Regions from separate parts of the Homo sapiens genome. Here region 2 is linked to region 1. Evidence: fine-mapped expression QTL. Tissue or cell type: whole blood. Region 1 holds a variant in brackets; the other region holds the start of a gene. All regions are shown on one strand. Distances are from middle to middle.

Evidence for each region. PIP is the estimated chance that this variant, and not a neighbour inherited with it, causes the effect.
Region 2: it holds the start of SENP7, and the variant in region 1 is fine-mapped to the expression of SENP7 in whole blood (TOPMed, PIP 0.93).

Annotation. Positions count from the first base shown.
Region 1 is chr3:101,471,166-101,473,930 of GRCh38, forward strand. The region is part of intron 3 of SENP7 (SUMO specific peptidase 7); the gene reads right to left. Among named protein-coding and RNA genes, the nearest start is that of SENP7, 41 kb to the right of the region's middle. The variant T/TA (reference allele first, on the strand shown) is at 1,158.
Region 2 is chr3:101,511,610-101,514,374 of GRCh38, forward strand. SENP7 (SUMO specific peptidase 7) reads right to left here and starts at 1,603. Exons shown (of 24, transcript NM_020654.5): 1 at 1,482-1,603. The coding sequence starts at 1,521.

The DNA of each region.
Region 1 (2,765 bases):
GGAACCAAAAAAGAGCCCACATTGCCAAGACAATCCTAAGCAAAAAGAACAAAGCTGGAGGCATCACACTACCTGACTTCAAACTATACTACAAGGCTACAGTAACCAAAACAGCATGGTACTGGTACCAAAACAGAGATATAGACCAATGGAACAGAACAGAGGCCTCAGAAATAACACCACACATTTACAATCATCTGATCTTTGACAAACATGACAAAAACAAGAAATGGGGAAAGGATTCCCTATTTAATAAATGGTGCTGGGAAAACTGGCTAGCCATATGTAGAAAACTGAAACTGGATCCCTTCCTGACACCTTATACAAAAATTAATTCAAGACGGATTAAAGACTTCAATGTTAGACCTAAAACCATAAAAACCCTAGAAGAAAACCTAGGGAATACCATTCAGGATATAGGCATAGGCAAGAACTTCATCACTAAAACACCAAAAGCAATGGCAACAAAAGCCAAAATAGACAAATGCGATCTAATTAAACTAAAGAGCCTCTGCATGGCAAAAGAAACTACCATCAGCGTGAACAGGCAACCTACAGAATGGGAGAAAATTTTTACAATCTACCCATCTGACACAGGGCTAATATCCAGAATCTACAAAGAACTCAAATTTACAAGAAAAAAACAAACAACCCCCTCATCAAAAAGTGGGCAAAGGATATGAACAGACACTTCTCAAAAGAAGACATCTATGCAGCCAACAGACACATGAAAAAACACTCATCATCACTGGTCATCAGAGAAATGCAAATCAAAACCACAATGAGATACCATCTCACGCCAGTTACAATGGCAATCATTAAAAAGTCAGCAAACAACAGATGCTGGAGAGAATGTGGAGAAATAGGAATGCTTTTACACTGTTGGTGGGAATGTAAATTAGTTCAACCATTGTAGAAGACAGTGTGGCGAATCCTCAAGGATCTAGACCTGGAATTACCATTTGACTGAGCAATCCCATTACTGGGTATACACCCAAAGGATTATAAATCATGCTACTATAAAGACACACGCACACATATGTTTATTGCAGCACTATCCACAATAGCAAAGACTTGGAACCAACCCAAATGTCCATCAATGATAGACTGGATTAAGAAAATGTGGCACATATACACCATGGAATACTATGCAGCCT[T/TA]AAAAAAAATGAGTTCATGTTCTTTGCAGGGACATGGATGAAGCTGGAAACCATCATTCTCAGCAAACTATCACAAGGACAGAAAACCAAACACCGCATGTTCTCACTCGTAGGTGGGAACTGAACAATGAGATCACTTGGACACAGGGCGGGGAACATCACACACTGGGACCTGTCGCGGGGTGGGGAGCTGGGGGAGGGATAGCATTAGGAGAAATACCTAATGTAAATGATGAGTTGATGGGTGCAGCAAACCAACATGGCACATGTATACCTATGTATCAAACCTGCACATTATGCACATGTACCCTAGAGCTTAAAGTATAATAAAAAATAATTTTTTAAAAACCACCAAATCATAAAGGTAAACAATAAAAGAATAGAGAAATAGAGATATAAAAGCAGTCAGAAAATCATTAACAAAATGAGTAAGTCCTTTTTTTAAAACTTTTAATTTCAGAGGTACCTGTGTAGGTTTGTTACATAGGTAAACTTATGTCATGGGGGGTTGTTATACAGAATATTTATGACCCAGATATTAGGCCTAGTACTCATTAGCTATTTTACCTGATGCTCTCCCCTCCTCACACCCTCCACCTTCTGAAAGGCTCTAGCATGTGTTGTCCCCTTCTGTGTCCATGTATTCTCATAACTTAGCTCCCACTTATAAGTGAGAACATGCAGTGTTTGGTTTTCTGTCCTCCATTAGTTTGCTAAGGATAATGGCCTCCAGCTCCATTCAAGTCCCTGCAACAGACATGATCTCATTTTATGGTGTATATGTGCCACATTTTCTTTATCCAGTAAAACATTACTGGGCATTTAGATTGATTCCATGTCTTTGCTATTATAAATACTGCTGCAATAAACATATGTGTGCATGTGTCTTTATAATAGAACAATGTATATTCCTTTGGGTAAATACCCAGTAATGGGACTGCTGGAGTGAATGGTACTTCTGTCTTTACATCTTTGAGGAATGGCCACATTGTCTTCCACAATGGGTGAACTAATTTACACTCCCACCAACACTTTATAACCATTCCTTTTTCTCCACAACCTCACCACCATCTGTTACTTTTGGAGTTTTTAATAGTAGCAATTTTGACTAGTGTGAGATGGTATCTCACTGTGGTTTTGATTTGCATTTCTCTAATGATTAGTGATGTTGAGCTTTCTTTCATATGATTGTTGGCTGCATGTACGTCTTCTTTGGAAAAGCACTTGTTCATGCCCCCCTTGGCCCACTTTATAATGGGGTTGTTTTTTGCTTGTAAATTTGTTTAAGTTAATTATAGATGCAGTATATTCGACTTCTGTCAGATGCATAGTTTGCAAAAATTTTCTCCCATTCTGTACACTGTCTGTTTACTCTGTTGACAGTTTCTTTTGGTGTGCAGAAGCTCTTTAGTTTAGTTAGATCCCATTTGTCAATTTTTGCTTTTGTCCCAATTGCTTTTGGTATCTTTATCATGAAATCTTTGCACGTGCCTATCTCCTGAATGGTACTGCCTAGGCTGTCTTCCAGAGTTTTCAGTTTGAGGTTTTACATTTAAGTCTTTAATCCATCTCGAGCTAATTTTTGTATATGGGCTAAGGAAGGGGTCT
Region 2 (2,765 bases), 40 kb after region 1:
GGAAAAAACTATTATCTCCAGAATATACACCAAGAACATCGATAACATTGGTTGCATATGAAAAGGGATTTCAGGTTTTCAACTGCTTCAAGCAGTGTCCCCAGAGATCCATAATCACTCTCCTTTGCAATTAAGGCTGAAAGCAGTTTGAGATGCACTGCCACAGGGCACTCCTAAATAAATTTGGAATTGGTTTTTTTTGTTTTTTTTTTGTTGTTGTTGTTGTTTGATACAGAGTCTCGCTCTGTTGCCCAGGCTGGAGTGCAGTGGTGCGATCTCGGCTCACTGCAAGCTCCGCCTCCCGGGTTCACGCCATTCTCCTGCCTCAGCCTCCTGAGTAGCTGGGACTACAGGCGCCCGCCACCACGCCCGGCTAATTTTTTGCATTTTTTAGTAGAGACGGGGTTTCACAATGTTAGCCAGGATGGTCTCGATCTCCTGACTTTGTGATCCGACCGCCTCGGCCTCCCAAGGTGTTGGCATTACAGGCGTGAGCCACCGCGCCCGGCCAATAAATCTGTAATTGTTAACTGTCTCTGCAGAAACCAACGGTACCATCAGAAACAGAAAAATGAAATGAAATAATTGATTCATTGGGCGTTCGTTTGTGTACTGGACTGTAAGCATATGAGTCCTCGTCCTCTCCTCCTACCATCCATAGGACTTAACACAAGGACTTGAGGACCCCCTAATGGATGAAATGTTTGATAAAAACTTCTCAACTGGGAGGAGCTCTACCTCACGTTTTTATAACTCCACTTTCTTGTTTCCAAGACGTTGTACACAAAACTGAAGATAGTCATTTAAAACAAAGTAACGTCCAAAACAAAAAATATGCTGAAAATAAAAACACAACGAAAGCACGGCTTCAAATCCTTTGTTTGACTTTCCAATCACTTTTGGAAGACGCAGGGTAGGCTGGAAAAGAAAAAGGCTATTAGGCGGGCCTGTTCAGCAGAACGAGACCCGGAGAGGCATTGTATCAAAGAAAAGGAGTCTCCGGTCGCAAGCCCCACCTTTCCTCCCCAGCAGCAGCTACCTGCTGAGGGAAAGAGGAGGGAGAGGGGAAGGGACGCAAAGTCGAGAATCAAAGGAAGAGAGGAAAGTGGGGTCAGGCGCTGAGAAGCCGAAATGAAATTGGAACATTGGTGGAATTACGAGGAAGGCGTGGCAGAGAGTGACAAGCCAACCGGGAAGATCCATGGGCCGATGAGACGCAAGGAGGGTGTTCGCGGGAGGAGGGAAAAAATAAAAGGGGTTTTGAGGTGAAGAGCGCCCGAGGCTTCGATGACAGCTCGGACCGGGTCTTCGACTCCAGGGGCGGGGGCGACCCGGGAGCCTTCCATTGTGCGCGCCCCTTCCTCTCCCCGCCCCCGCCCTCGCCCCCGCGGCTTCGGGCCGCAACCCCAGCTGCCGCCTGCGCCTCCCGTTTCCCCCGGGTAGGAGACAATATGTTCAGCCCTTCTCTGACCCTTTCTCACCGGATGAAGATGGCCGTCGCCCGAGCTTTCTCTTGTCCATCTTCTCCCGCTGCTGAAATTTCAGTTGCAGGCGCTGTCACCTCAGGACCCCTCCGGCTTGGAGAGGGAGGGGGAGGGGAAAGGAAAAAAAAAAAAAAAAAAAAAAAAAAAAAAAAGCCCGCAAAGTGCGAAGCGCGCTTGCGCAAGAGCCGTCGCCTGCCCTTCGACCGGAAATCAGCCGCCCCTCCCACCTTCGACCGGAAATCACTTCCTGGGACTTTTCACTGTGGGCTGCCTCTTCCAGCGTTTTTTTGGTGGCGTTTATTTCATGATCTGAGCCCCTCTGGGGAGGTGAACCACCTGGGTGCTCGATTTTAGCTTTGTTGACTTTGAAGATTAGATTGACAAAAATTAAAAGGGAAAAACAGGAACTCCTCCGGTTCACTGGATCTCGCGAGGTGGCCAAACAACTATGAAAACAAAACGTTAGCGTTTGCAGTATTACATCCCTCACAGCCTCTCTTACATATTTGCCCCCAACGCCTTTCCTCGAACTCAGAAACCAAAAGATTTTAAGATGGCAAAATCACCTAATAATAGCCTAGCTATTAGTTTAGCATTTGCTGTGGAAATATGTCAGCAGACGAGGAAAAATGTCTTAGGATTCCTTTTTAAAATTCGAACTTGTGATTTTTAAAGTTCCTTAAAAGAAAAGCTAGAACTTAATTTTTCAATAACTGAAATGCTGATATGACAGAAAGTGGGTGGCTATAAACTTGGAATTTGTTCAATTAACATTTACCACGATACTTAAGGGACTAATCCAGTCCTCAATGAACTCAAGGTCTGGTACTATTAGCCTGATTATCCCTAATGGTGCATATCTGAATAATTTTTAAATGCACGTGTAAGCTTTCATGACGATTTAATCACAAGTTTAACAAAATTCAGCACAGTGCTCTAAGCAGGGAAAATGTTTCTGGCATGTTCAAAGCCCGAAGGGACTCTGGAAGTAGGGTTTGATTCCCAAGCTGGCCCCTTTATACCCCTAACGCCTATCCCTCCAACCCCCATCTCCCATCCTAACGGAGTCAATAAAGGGATCGGCCCAACTCGTCCACTAGAGCAGTCCCCTTCATCGTGAGTTAAGCCTTCTTAATTATAATGTGGTCAGTCCCCAGGTAGAGGTAAGGCCCCAGGTGTTGTGGGGTGTTGGGCCTGGGGAAGTGTTCTACATGGCAGGAATGACTGCAAAGCAGAAATACTTTAAGTCTTGCTGGGATTGAAGTTTACTGTAAGGATTTC